Linked DNA regions of Homo sapiens. The protein of the gene in region 1 interacts with the protein of each later gene in a biochemical or structural test. Each region holds a gene or a part of one and is shown on either strand. Other genes may lie near its edges.

Region 1 (7,410 bases):
ATTGAGGGAAAGGGGCATGCTGGTGGGGGAGATACATGAAGAGTGCCTCAAGGATGTTTGTCCCATGGCTCAGGATAAAGGGATGGGTTGAGATAGGTCACAAATTTTATATCAATGAAGTACTCAACTCACACCATTCACCAGAATAAAGAGCTCAGCAGGGCTAAGTCCTACTTGGTAGCTGTGCAAGTTCAGTGTTATCAGGATCAGGCTAGGCCATAAACAGAAAGGGACCAAAGAAGTCTAATTGATCCATTTCATCACTCTACCCAATCGTCTCTGTAGAACCAATTAGGTGATATGTGAAAATGGGTCCACTTTTCCTCCTTTCCCATTGGTGCAAAATCTTCTTTTATCCAGTCTTATCCTACATCTTAATGGTGAGGGTCACATAAATGAGGGTGGATACAGCCACGTCTGAGCAGTCATCTGCCTTGGGGCTCCTTGCCATCCCCCAGACCTTCATGAAACCTGCCCTCTCACACATAGGCAGAGTCACTGGACTGAGTCCTGCCAAAATTGGGAACACTGACCCTTGGCAGGTCCTTGTTACGAATCTCATAGATTGACTTTCTCTTGGCCTGAGCCCCTCGCACAGCCAGCTTGATCTTGCGCCATCCCAGGTGGTTGAGTTCAGCCAGGTTGAGCACAACACAGATGCCACTTACAGCAAACATGAACACTAGAAAGACAGTCTTCTCAGTTGGCCGGGACACATAACATTCCACCTCCTTGATGCAGGGGTAGCGGTTACACTCATACAACCCTGGGACACTAAAGCCATAGAGAAAATATTGGCCAACCAGGAACCCAATTTCCAGGGCATTTCGGAACACCACTTGGATAATGTAGAAGCGGGAGATGCCTTCCTGCCTTCTGAGCTTGGATTTTGATGCAGTGCGTAGACCTGATGGGTGTGGAGTCAGCTCCTTAACCTCTAAACAATCTGGCTCTGTCTCCTTACTGGTGTTCTCTGTGTTCTGCAGCACCCCATTCACAATAGCATTTTGCAACTTCTTATCTTCTCGTTTGCCCCCACCACTGCCCCCACCCCCAGTTCCTCCAGGACCTCCTATGGACTCAGGGGGGTCTCTGTCCAGGGCTAGGAAGACTGTAGAGTAGCGGCGTTCTCGCTGCTTGGCGGACTGGTGCACAGAGTAGGTGATGAAGCAAAGACTGGGGGTACACACCATTATGATCTGGAAGACCCAGTAACGTATGTGGGAGATGGGGAAGGCGCGGTCATAGCAGGCCTGGTTACAGCCGGGCTGCAGGGTGTTGCACACAAACATGGTCTGCTCATCATCGTACACCGTCTCCCCCACAATGGCCACAATGAGGATCCGGAAGATCACCACCACAGTCAACAGGATCCTGAACGGAGGAAGAGGGAGGGAGAGAGGTTCTCACGGGCTGCGTCACTGACAGGAAACCCCTGCTCCTCCCTTCCCTTTGCTGGTGTTTACCAGTCTTTTGACTGGGGAGCTGTCCATCCCGGGCTGGTACTGAACTAGGAATCTGGGAAAGCTTTTTGTCTCTTCCTTTTCTGCTGAGTGCTGGTAGGCTGGGAATATTTCATATTATAGAGATCCCAGGTACACACATCTCCATACACTGGACATAGTCTACTTGCAACAGATAGATTTCATCTCTCTATATAGAATGTATAGAAACACAAAACACACCTTCACTCTGGATATGGCAAATGCACACAGAATACCTTTACAGATGGTGCATGCTTCGAGGTCTACACACAGGGTGTGTAAATAACTACTCCATGTGTATATTTAGTTTATTCTCAACATGAATATTAAATTTAATGCTTTATATAAGCAGATGGCTATGAATATATATTCATATATATTGAACTCATATATATATAAAGCTAGGTAGATAGAGACATAGATATAGATACAGACCCAAAAATGGCAATTGGGTGTGTAGGCTCGGTAAGTTTACACCGCCAAATAAGTTTGGTTTAGTAATTATTTGTTGAGAAAAGAGGCATCTGCTCTGAAGAGCAAATCCATCTCCCCATTTGCCCTTTTCTGTCCAAATGCAATCCTGCCTTCTTTGTAGATTCTATTTAGGGAACCAAATGGAGATTGGCTCTGACTCTGGAGAGTGGAGGGACCAAGACTGAGCCAGCGGCTCCTTTTCTGATGTGGGAAGAGTGAAGCCCCAGTGGTGCTTGATGGGGAAGGGATGGGCAGCTGGTTAGGAGTAGCTAGAGGAGGGGGGCATCGCGGGGCGTCGGGTAATCCCTCATCGCCGGGAACACCGGAGCCTTGACCTAGGACGATGGGGAGGAGGCAGAGGACGGACTGGGGATTGGAGCGGGAGACTCAGTCCAGGTGTGAGAAGGGACTCCCGGGGGCCGCCCGACGGGGCCCCCTGACCGCCGGCTTGGCGCCCTTACCTCCCGATCATAGTGGAGTGCTGCTGCACCGCGGCTTCTAGCAGCCTCTCCAAGATGGTCCATTCCCCCATCGCTGTGCATCCGGAGGCAGCAGACAAAGACTGGGCAGCACCGGGCACGTTCCCGCTCCTGGCCCCTCCCCGGGCCGCACTTCCAGAATGGGAGTGAATTGCCTCCCAATTAAAGAAGCAATTTTTTAAAAAATCCTCGAATCCCCCTTTCCTTTTATTGTACTTAAAAGAGAAGAAATGGGGAAAGAAATCCAAGCGCGTCCCGACCGATGGGGCAGTTGGCGCGGTCTAGAGAGAGGGCACGAACCTCGGGCGCCGTCCGGGGTTCGGGTCTGGATCCCGCGGACGCCGGGACGAGGGGCGGGGCGGGGTGGCAGCCTGCAGGTCCTCCAGCGCTCGCCCGCCCAGGAGAAGTCTCAGCGCCGCTCTCCGCCGCAGGTTGGGGGCCAGGGGAGGGTCCGAACACCGGCTCTGTTCCTGCTACTTCAGCGGGCACCTGGCGCTCCGGCGCGGCAGCCTGCGAGGCCAGGGCCGAGCGCGCGGAGCCGAATGCTGGGCTCGGGGATCCGCGGCCGCCGCCTCTAATCCGCCCTTAAGTAGTCTCCGCCTGCGTCACGCCAGGTCGGCGGAGGGGAGCAGAGCGCGCCGTGCGGCTGTCGCTGCGCGTCGGAGCCCGAGGGGCCGGGGACGCGCGCGGGGGGAGAGGGGCAAGAGTCCTGGAGGCCCGGCGGGGAGCGGGGCGATTTCGAAAGGAAGGACTGCAGCGCCCCTCGGGGCTTCTCGGGGAGCCCAGGTAACCTCACCTGACCGCCAGACCCAAGCAGGCGGAGGGGGAGCCGGGAGCGGACGCGTGGGTGAGTGGGGAGGGGAGTGAGTAGGTATCTTCTCTTCTCTCGGTGCATCCCTCACCTTTTCGCTTTTTGCCTCCTGGAGACAACTGAAATTCCTTCCCTAGATGGAGATGCTGGCTGAGGGAGGGCGAGTGGGGGCGACCACTTTTAAATCTCCCTTAGGGGACAGAGTGGCTGAGAGTGCTTCTGCAGAGTGGCTGCGGTTCGGTGCCTCTGTGGATCCGACAGTGAAGTGAGAAAGGCTTGATGGGAATCCATTTAGGCTGAAGGGTAAATGCAGGTGTGGAGCTGTCTCTCGGTATAGGGGTCAGGGCACACGAGCGCATCTAACAGGTGCCTCGCAAAGAGCAAGTGGGGTGGCCATGGTTAAAGGTCTCGCTTCCCCTTGCACTAACCCAGATGCTCGGCTCTTTTTAAATTATTGCTATTATTTTACTAATGGGAAGGGGGGGCGGGGTACTCGTCAGGTAAACTGTGATTTAATCTGAATTTAAGACCCAGTATTCTGCTAGCAGAAACAGAGCCACTCACAGCCTCGCCCTGCCCCCACTTGCCTTACTGGGTTTGGCTTTCTCCCCTCAACCAGCAGATCCCGGTTTTTAAAATTCACATTGTGTTGTCAGTTCTGTCTAGAGCAACTACTTAATTGGTTGCTGAAAAATTGAAACAACCTCACTAAGCTGCTAATTAGCCCAGGGGTCAGTATTAGGAGACACTGTAGCTGGCAGTGTTTGATGTAAATGTACCAAAAGTCCAATGGGAAAGTAATTGTCATCCTTTCGAAAACACGACCTTGAAAGGGTTGCTAACTTGTCCTAGGCATATAAAGGGACCTAGCCTTAATTATCCACAGGGATCATAGCACATATGTATATTACATAAGCCACACCATGGTGAGCCTTCACTTCTGGAACAACCGAGGTGGTTGGGTAGTTGGTGGCCCAGGGACTGGGAAGAAAGGTGCAGGGCATGGCCCTCAGTCCACTCACAGTGTACTTCTTCATAAAATGATGTTTAAACACACGGTCTAAGCTTCGCCGCCAGAAAGATCACTGAAATCCTCTGCTAGGGTTGACATCTTTACCCCAAGAAAGCAGCCTTTCACTGCAAAGGAGTAAAAGAGTCCACTAACAATGGAGAGAGGGATAAAGTGATTTATTAGTTTCCTTCTGAACACGGAGGAGGTTCAAGGGTGAGGACGAATGGATACCCTATTATCCAGTTAGCTTCCAGATGGAATGGTGATCCCCTAACCCAAACTTGGTGTGTTTTCCCAGGTTTCCCTTCTACTCCCCTTGGCCCTAGGTCCCTGTATTCCCTCCTTGTCTGGCAGACTCTCTTATAGTAAATGATCTTAGCCAAGAAGTGAATGAGTAAGTCCAAAGGGAAATCTGTTTAACATCTTTAAATGTCCCAAAATAGGCTGCACAACTCAAAATTGTCATTTTATGTGTTGGCTTTCCCAAACCGTTAAAGATTATGATCCTAAGAACATAGACTGCAGGAAATGCAATTATCAGACACTACGCTATGACTGAATTGTTGATCATTTGTGTATTATTTTGAAATATACTTTAATATGCCATATAGATTCCACATATAAACATGTGCAAACAACATAGGTGTATAAGTGCACAAAGACGCATATATATAGAACCTATATTTTAAAACTCATCAGTTGGACTGTGTAGGCTACTTTTAAATAAAAATCTTAGTCTCACCACCACACTTCAGAAATAACCATTTTTATTTTTAATAACCACTCATAAATTTCACACTTACTACATTGTACTTCCTCCTTCAAGTCCAGTCAACTCCATTTTCAATTAATAATTTGTTCCGATAAACAAATGTGCATTAAATGTGAAATGGTTCTCTGTGGATCCGGGCATCTCTCAGTTTCCTCAGGGCATTGTATCTTCTTGATAGATTCTGATTATCTCAACTCTCCTCTGATTGAAAACCCCCGTTTAAGGCAGCTGGGAAGTTCTTTCCATTACATCTTATTTAAAAGCCATTCTGTTTATTAAAATAATAGTTTTGGATGAGAAACAATGAAATTCGTAGAATGCTCATAGAATAACCTTTGCTGCACAACAGACTGTCTGGGGATCTTCATTAAAAAGACAGATGCTGCGATCCCATCCCAATTCTGCTAAATTGAAATCTATGGAAACAAGATTGAGGTAGCTGTGTTATTAACGGGTTCTCATCCACAGCTCCAATAACAATAAAAACCTGAGAACTTTTAGTTCCATGACTATTAGGGCAGGAGTGAATCCTAGGGATGAGGAAATCTATCATCCATTTGTTTCATAGTGTTAAAACTGACCCAAAGCTTAGCTAGCTTGCCTAAAATCATATGGGTAGCAAAGGAAAAGCTATGAAGAATGTGGTATTCAGAATCCTAGAGAAGATCAAAATTATTTAAAAGTATGAAAAAAATGTGATATTTGAAGAAGAAAAGGGGAATTAAAGTGGGAACATGCTCACCTCCAGACATTTAGAGGAAAAAAATACCTAGATTGTTGATCTGCAAATCTATGTCTTACCAAATAGTATTTTCCATTAACAGAGCAGGGAAATATTATCCACATCTAGTGGGAAAAACTGCAAAGGCATGGAGCAAAGGGTGTTGTTGAATGTTATAATACAGGAGAGAATGTAGAGCTACTAACAATGATTCCATTTACTACATAGGGGTGTCTGAATTTGTTCTTATCCTTATATGTGCTCAAAATTTCATTCTCTTCTCAACCACAGACTCCCAGGTGAACCTTTCAGCCTTGCAGCTTCAAATGTTTTGTAAATGAAACCTCATAGGAGCTTTGTATATGTTGTAAGAATGAACATTAATCTACTGACCTCTATTCTACTGGACTGTAAATTCCTAGAGATCAGAGAGCATGCTCATATGTCATGGTTCTTTTCATAGCGTCTTTAAACTCAAGCATTTGTTGAAAGTGAAGGTCAGCTATTCTGGCTCTCTATTCCCCTCAGCCTAGCAGAACTGCACTTTTCCTGAGGAGAAGTGGGTCCTGGGTGTCCTCCACAATCACAAGTAATATTCAAGTCAGAAAGGAGAAAGGGGCTCCCTTTGCGAAGTGAAAGTTCCTACACACTTAGGATAGCCTGGACCCCTCAGTAGAAAGCCTTCTTACTAACCACCAGCCCCCTGCCCTCACTTCCATTATTCTCTCAATACTGCAGTCCAGACACCCGCTGAACTGACCGGGGGAATGCAGCTGAGCAGGTAAGGCTTGGGCTGCAGCATCAGAGAGGCAACCCCAGCTAGCTGAGCTCAGTCCTGGATTGGGAAGGACCAGCATCTGTAGCCTCCTGAAATTTGTGTGGCATGGGAGGGACTGCATTCGATTTGGAATTGATCTCTGTGTTGAACTCTCCTACATTTCATTCACAAATAGCTAGGATTAACTGAGCTTTATCTCTCCCAGTGGCCTACGTGCATCTGTTTCCTAATGAAACCATCAACTTGTCTTCTTAAGGGGCAACCCCAACCTGTCTTGGGAGACTCAAAAGAACCTAAGTGGCAGATGGAATCTATTTTTATTTGCTGCAAAGTGGTTTTTCTCTTTTTTTCTTTCATGTGTCCTTCCCTATGTATAAGCCTCAGTTCAAATGTTTAGGAAAACACTTGATTTTGCTGTTCAGACAAAATTTATGAAGTAATGTTTCCAAAGAGAGTAAAGCTGTCCGATGTACCAATCTTAAGTAGCCCTAAATATAGTGGCTTGCTTTGTGGTCTAAGATTCTCCAGAATCTGCTATCTTCAAAATTATTTTGCCATCTCATGGACCCAAATGCCAAATCATGTCTTAGGCCCAAGAGATTATGTATCCAAATGGTAAGGAAATCTAAAGTCTTCTGCCTGCTAGTTCTTTGAATAAAAGAGTATATAGCCTTTAAAAAAATTACATATACAAATTCCCCCATTCCCCGACTACCTCGTATATAGAGAATATACCTATGTGTAATAATATCTCAGGGATTAATGTAATATGGTATTGTGGCCAAAGCAGATGTGTGAAATCACAGCAAATAAATTAACACTGCATTAAGAATCAAATCATTCCTGCTGACACATAATCTTTCACTTTTATATCAAGTC
Region 2 (7,776 bases), on another chromosome or scaffold:
AACACACAGGTTGTAAGTTTGTGAGAGAAATGGAATATCTTCCATATACACAGAACCAGATGGCATTCTATCACATCAGCTGATGTTTGTGATTATTACTCTTATTTCCCATAATTGCCCTTCTGAGATCTGCTCATCTGCGTTATGCTAAGCACATATAATTAGCCAATAAAAGATATGGAGCTGAGCCCATTTAAAAAAGTAATTACGGCCAATATGATGGTATGTAATGTAATAAGCAAGTCCAAATCATAATGTTAAATACCTTTAGAAGATAGCCAAAGAGGTTTTTGTAGAGATGACTTTTATTAAAGTCAAATGGAATATGTCCATTTTAATTGTGGCATTCAATCATCATAGACAACTCTAGAAATATGTCATGGGAAAAAAAAATAGGAAGCAAAATGGGCAAAGTAATTCTGCTGAATCACAAGGCATGGTCTTCGCTGTAGGTTCATTGCCAGGAGGAGTCCTTGAGAACGCCAAGCTTCATGGGGGGATCTACAAGAAAAGAGCTTTGAAGACAGACCTCCTTCCCCCCTTAGATTTCCCTGTCAAGATATATAAAGGAATTCAAACTAATCAAAAAGCCCAAGTGAGCCGGCTGGTTAACTAGGACAGGCCCAACTTTGAGTTCAGAAAGCTTTCTAATGTTTTCCACCTGCCTATCCAAAGAACAAAGTTTCCAGGATATGTTGACTGCAAAAGAGGCTTGCTCCTAAAGAGAAAGATCATGTGGTTGCCGAAATGGCATATCCTGGAAGTTTAGCTCAATGCTGAAAACCATTGTCATGCATAAGAAATTACCCCATGCCCAAGATACTGAGTTTCTTTTTCTTAAGCTGTTTAATCATCATGAGAAAAGTAGTCAACAGGCATGTGAGGACATGAAGCAGTTAGCCCTTGAGGTTCCCGAGGCTCTTTACAGTCTCAGCCCATCTAAATTTAGCAATCAGTGGATCCTCTTCACCCTAGCAAGGTGGGTATTTCATTGTCTCGTATTCCTCTTCTCCCCCACCACACACATGTTCCTCCCCAACAGATATCTGCTATGATCATTCCTGTTCCACCCATGCCACTGCCCTGTCTGGAATGATCTGTGCCCTCTCACCACCTCTCCAAATCGTTCAAGGCCCAATTCATGTTCCTTTCTTCATGAAATATTCCCCAATGGCACCAGCCAACACCAATATTTTTGCTTCCTGATCAGCCCTCTTCTCTGTCTCACTTACTGTCCAACTAGAGATAGAAAAGGGGACCAAGTGGCTCGCACCTGTAATCCCAGCACTTTGGGAGGCCGAGGTGGGAGGATCACTTGAGGTCAGGAGTTTGAGAACAGCCTGGGCACCATAGTGAGACCTCATCTCTAGAAAAAATTTAAAAACTAGCAGGGCATGGTGGCACGTGCCTGTGGTCCCAGCTACTTGGGAGGCTGAGGTGGGAGGATCACTTGAGCCCAGGAGGTTGGGGCTGCAGTGAGCCATGATGGCACCACTGCACTATAGCTTGGATGACAAAGGGAGAGTTGTCTCTAAAAAAAAAAATTAAAAAAGAAAGAAAGAAAAGAAAGTAAGAAAGTAAAAGAAAAGGGTTTGATCTTGGGGGGTAAAACCAACTGCTAGTGTGCCTGGAGTAATATCTTCAAGATTCCAAAGTTCCTTCTGAGTTGAAAAGTGTCATGGTCTTTAGCAATGACAGTGAGAATGGTATGGGAGGGGGGAATGGAGCACTATATGTCCAGGATTTGCCAAGCCTAGTCTAAACCATTCTTCCTGGTAGTGGTTTATAATGAAACTTAATTTTTCATTGTCTCATATTTTCCAAATGTATGCAGTTCCATGTTCTTATGGCCACTCGGATTAAATTTTCAGATTTTAAAGTGATAGGCCGCAGAAGTTACAGAGAAAAATGACCATAAAAGATGTCATAGAGAGTTACAACTGGTCATTCTTGAGGGGTCCCTCAAGCTGGCCTTCCATCTTGGGGTTGATTTGATAAGCTCTCAAAAGATGATTTCAAGTGTGCACCCAGGGGCGATGGATTTCCTGGTATGATTTCTCATAAATATATGCATGAATTTATGAATATATACATATTTATATATACATATATATATATATATTATACACACACTTTCAGCATATAGACCAGATTACTAATTAATTTCCAAATGGAGACATCCTTTATCAGAAACTACCCTCCCCAGGGCTACTTCTACAGGTTTCTACTTCTCCTTCTGAATAATGGGTAAGAAGCTGAATGTGTCCAGGAAGTGTCCCAGTGAGCATGAAATCAGAACCTTCCCTCTTTTCTTTCCAGTGGTTAAAAAGTGGGCCTTGATTAAAAACTGCTCTGCCGCTTGCCGATGAGCTTGTCCTTAGGCAGTTTCTCAGATTCACTATGTCTTGGTTTTCCCAGCTGTAGAATGCAAATAGCAATGATACCTGACACAGGGTTCTTGTATAAAGTGCTCAGAACAATAAGTAGCACCTGTTAAACACAATGTTCATTTTTATGATTACATTTTTTTCTAGTAGTTTAGAAATATAATTTCCATGATAATGTAACAGCCCTAATGGCCCAAAAAAAAAGCCCATATTATTTTTTTTAACCCCTGCATATTATTCGAAATCCAGGAGTACCAAGAAAGATCTCACCTGAGAAGGCTAATTGTGTAGTTTTTTCTCTTCCTTTATACACTATACCTGGGAGTTAGCTCCACTCCTGGATTAACTCTTATTTCTCTATTTTCTTTCTGTTTTACAACAATTCATCACACCACATATGTAGATGACTGTGTGTATGTGAACATGGCAAGTGAAACCTCACGATCTCCAGGCTGTTCGGTGAAGCTTTATGCGAATTCATTTCACCTACACCCTTCCCCTGCCCACCCAAGGCCTTGAACCGAAGCCTGTGATCCCCTCCCAAGTTGGATCCTGCCCTTCGCCAAAGGCAAGACCGCTGAAGGCGTGGCCTTCTAGATGATTCATCAGGTTGGCGGGCTCTCCCTCCCCTCCCCCTTGCCCAGGGGACACCCTGTCCGCGTGAAGAGGGGGGCCTTTGTGTGAGTGATGTTTCTCAATTATCAAACTAGTGGCGTGAAACCTTTTCCTGAAACACCTGAGTGTAAAAGGTTTTGTTACCTCCCTTTTTTTCTTTTAAATAATAAAGGAATAGCCACACCTACCTTAGTTTCTATTGGATAAAAAGGTGAATAGTTTTGTTGTGGTGGTTGTTGTTGTTTTAAGCCTTCAACTCTCAAAAGGCACAGAGTTCCCAGGTGCAAAGAGGTAGCTTAGACCTGTCTGGGGCGGATCGGGGACAGGAGCCAGCTCCCCTGAGGTCGAGCACCAGAGCCGGCCCCCAGACCCCGCCCTCGACTACAATTTCTCTTCCTTCTCCTCCCCCTTGCTTTGCGAGCTATTGACTGACTGCAGCCAGCTGAGGCCCAGGCTGTGGGAATCCGGACTTCCTTTTCTTCCCTCTCCCATTTTTCCTTCTTCCTCCACCCTCCCCCAAACCAAACCCCAAAACCTCTAGGTAGTCCAATATTAAAACCGGTGGAACAAAAGCATTCCCAAAATCAGGAGGAGGGAAAGAAGAAGACGAGGGAGGCAAAAGTAGGAGGAAAATAGGAATGTCAACATTTATTTTCCTGAAGGGGAAAAAAAATTCTCTCTGGGCAGGCAGGCCATCTTCCGGGACGGGGAATCCACAGTTTCCTCAGGTAATGAGTTCCAGGGATGCTGGATGCAGGTGGTAAAAATACGCAGCGTTTCAATGGGATGATGGGAGATGTTTACAGCCCTCCTGGGAAGATGCCAGAGAGTTTAACAGTCCTGGGATACCTCCCAGCTGCCTGCTCTGGTGCTGGATGAGTTTACGCCTCCTTTCCTGCTGGAAAAGGTGAAGCAACCAGTGACTTGTCCAGGGTCACACACCACGCTTGGGACAGAAATAACTCTGACGTCTCTTTCCTGGCTATATCAGCAGACAACATCGCCTAATGACAGTACTACCATTCCAATCTGAATCATTTAAATTGCTCCTAATTGCAGGCCTGCAGTGCACTGTAACTGCCGTATGACTCTAACTGCCAAGCCAGCCGAGATAGGAATGACTGAAGTTTTGCAAATTCCTGAATATGGAATTAAAAATGCTGGGCGGGGGAGGGGGTAGCGCAAAAGTGTTTGAAAACCACTTTGAAACTGCTGACAGGTATCCTATTTCAAATTGTTTAAAAGATGAATTGGAAATGTCAACTTAAATTTGTCATTTTATTGGAATTAGAGAAACACTTGGTGTTCAAATGGATGCGGTTCGAAAAGGCACCTCAGATATTTCTAAGAAGTTCGGCTTCACACTCTTCCTTTTTGTGTCTGCTAAATTACTGTCTCATTTTGGTGTTTAAACTTCCCTTTTAACTCCTTTGTGGGCAGATATGGGGAAAGGGGAGGGCCTGGGAAACAACCAGGCATTTGACTTCAGATCTGAACACGGGGCTGGACACGTGCTGTGCTCAGGAAAGAAAGTAAATTCCACCTGGCAAATTGCTCTAACTGATTTATTTGTCCACAAAGAGACGCCACCTACCTGCTTGCAGGTATTCAGGTAAATGACAGGTGGGCGGGGCCTCCTGACTCTTTCAATCCCTAAGGTCTCAGCAATGCTTTATCTGTCGGGGCTTCCGTGATGTCACCCATTTCCTGGTCTGGAGCGACCAATGCCGTCCTCCTTCCTCCAGGCACCTGTTCACCGAAGTTGAGGCTGGTCACAACTCCGGCGGCCCAAGGAGCTGCTCGGTTCACCCACAAGGAATGAGAGCTGCCTGCCTGCTGCTGCTTGGAGAGCCCCAGACAGTCGCTTGAAGAGGTGAGTTGAAACCCTCCATTTTTCTCTCTTGGCATTTAGACCACTGGCCCCTGAGGGATCTGAACACGGAATTTGAATGAAAAAATACAAGCTGAACGGCTTGTCGCTAGTGTTTGCCCCAGAGGGAGAAGCTTTTTTGAGACAGAAGAGTAGAGAGATGACTTTGACATTCTAGTTGCACAATAAACTTCTCCCAGGCCAGATATTTAATCCTTTTTGTTTCTCTGATCATTAATCCAGCCTGTGCTTGTCCTCGTACTTGATCTGATTAAAACAACAACAACAACCTAAAGAGAAGTAGAGTGAAGGCTTTTGTTTTGAAACTTAGCGCGAAGGTGCAGATCTGTTCAGCCCGTTTAACGGGGGCTAGGAGGCCAGTGCAGACTGGATTCAGAGTTCTTATTTTTCCTTTTCTTCCTCCCTGTATTTTGATCTAAACCTGTGAAGTGTCCCTAGTTTTTTTTTCTTTCCCCCTGAAAACCTGTTCCTCAGGGCAAATTCTGTTGCCCTATTCAGAAGCTGTGCGTTCCAGTTTTCCTCTCTTCTCTGAAAAAGTCTACCATTTTCTTTGCTCTTTGTTGAACACTCTTTTAAATACGACTTTGCAGTGTGCATTTAGAATTTGTTTACATTTAGACCTGGACTGGCTGCCTGCTGACCTTTGGTTACAGTAAGAATTAATTCCCTCATTGCTGCAAGAATGTGACTTCAGGTCTGATTTTTAATTTTTTGGACCTCTTTGGCTTTTTCTGTCTCTTTTTCTTTTAATAGCAAATATACCGAGGAAGTTGTTCTGCCAGGACCTGGCTTTTAAAGTAATTTTACCTCTAGGATCCATTTTTGTTTTCTTAATCCTGATCACACAGCCTGTATCTTGACAGCCCAATAGTCAAACTCTTTAGCCAATATTGTTGTCAGAGAAAGGAAACCATTTTTAAGCCCAGCTGCCTGCTGGGATGAGCTGGAAAAACTGGAAAAAGAAATAAATCTGCGAGACACTTCATTCTAGATTCCAACATCAGCTGTTTTTCTGAGATTTAAGTTAGCAGATGTTTGCAAGGGAATAATCTGTTAGGAATTATGCTCCTGTTCATCCACCCAGAAATACAAAATGCATGTAAATTCTCCCAAGGTATGAATTGAAACAAGCTGAGATCATTTTTGCCTTAGACAGACAGTCGTTCCTCACCACTAAGAATCTGCCCAGTTCTTGTTGCTAATTTCTGTCTTACTGTTTGGAGGTCCCTATTGTTCTTCCTTAACTGACCTTTGTTTATTATTTTCCCCAAGCTTGTGAGTTTAAGGGGGGGGGTTTGGCCACCACTTGTCTCTTACTAAGGTTCTCACTTGATTCAAAGCTTGGATCTTCTGATAAAAGTGCATCTAAACCTCTCCTCAAGATTACATTGCCTCTGGTTTACCATGGTTGATTAGTGCTTTTCACAGTAGTTAATTTATGATTAAATAAATAATTTCATCACTGTATGTCAGCATGTCTGAGTACTAAAGGAACAAAGCTGTAGACACTGTACCCCCAGGTAGAAGAAAGAAAAGAAGTGACAAAGACTGGAATTCAGAGTCAGATTGACTAGAATGCAGTTGGTCTGTTGGGTAATTTACACACAAGTCCTGTCCAGAGTTCCTGTGGTAACTCCACCCATTGGTTCAAGTGGACATAGGCCTGATGGAAAAATGTGCAATCTCCTTCATTTATATCCTTGAGCAAGTTACTTCTCTGACTTTCAGTTTCTTCATCGGTAAGATGGGAGATAATAATCCCCATGATCTAATGTGGTTGTGAGAAGTAAATGAGGTAGCTAATATATGTTAGCATCCAGCGACCAATGCCTGGTGTTAACTGGTGCTAAACTGAGGCTAGGTTCTTCCTTTGGAAGGAATTTTCCTAGGTTGCTTGGAGGAGAGAGTCTGACTCTATCAAGATAAAGATCATATGTGGTTGCAGTTGTAGGAACCTTGATAGTTCTTGTTATTGTAATTAATTGTAGGTAATTAACTGCAATGTTAACAGTTTGGAAAAAGAAAACAGGCAGGAGAATTCTTAAACAATGTCATCAAACAAGGTGGGCAGATTTGTCTCCGCTAGCCTCACAGGCAAAGCTTTTAGGAGTTGCTGGCTGGCTGTGATTTCTTCCTTTTCCCACTCTAAGGCTCTCATCCTGCAACAGACCCACAAAATGTGATTCTCCATGGGCCTTTCGGGGGAAATGTCCAGTTGTCATTGCTGTAATCTGACTTGGCAGAGAGTTCTTTTTGCTGTCAGTCGTGCTATCTCCAGGGCAGACTGGGTGTTTGGTCTCCTCCAGTCTCACAGATAAACACCCTTCTCCCTAACCAGAGTGAGGGTTCATGCCGAGCCTCTGGCAGGAGGAAGCCCCTGGTTTGGAGCCTCATTGTACCATAGAAGGAGGTTCATGACCCATTGGATGTGATTGGCCTTGTCATGCAATACCCTGTGCCCTTGGGTGACCTTGAGTCATTGCATATGAGCAGTTGTGTGCCCAGGGCCCTGGTCACTTCTCTGGGTCTCGCCCTTCAGGGATACCACAAATTTTCATCATTCAAGAGTAAGGGATTAGTGGATTGAGGTCAGTGGGTTCTACTGTTCTACTAGCTTGCCTACGGAGCCCTAAGGGAGAACCTCAACCCCCCTGCATGTCAGTTTCCTTAGCTACATTTTTCCCCAAAGGACGCTAAAATGGTGTACTTCACAGGCCCCCTCCATCCTTACAACTGAAGCAAGGTGGGCTGCATGTCCAGGTGGGTAGGTCAGACTGACTGGGGGGACTGGGTAGTGCCTCACTAGAAAATATCAATCTTATTCATTCCATTCTAGGTGGGGCAATGCTACTGCTTTAGAATAGTGGTCTGGTCTCTGGCATC

The links. Proteins that work in one complex are often made in the same cells at the same time.
Region 2: the proteins of GJD2 (region 1) and LNX1 form a complex in vitro, tested with the Homo sapiens proteins (2 studies listed by BioGRID and IntAct, with this or other methods).

The regions. Positions count from the first base shown.
Region 1 is NC_000015.10:34,751,999-34,759,408, forward strand, and holds the start of GJD2 (gap junction delta-2 protein), read right to left. Parts: upstream 3,001-7,410; 5' UTR 2,491-3,000; coding exon 2,420-2,490; intron 1,375-2,419; coding exon 480-1,374; 3' UTR 1-479. UniProt on the Homo sapiens protein: One gap junction consists of a cluster of closely packed pairs of transmembrane channels, the connexons, through which materials of low MW diffuse from one cell to a neighboring cell.
Region 2 is NC_000004.12:53,588,487-53,596,262, reverse strand, and holds the start of LNX1 (E3 ubiquitin-protein ligase LNX), read left to right. Parts: upstream 1-4,776; 5' UTR 4,777-4,875; intron 4,876-7,776.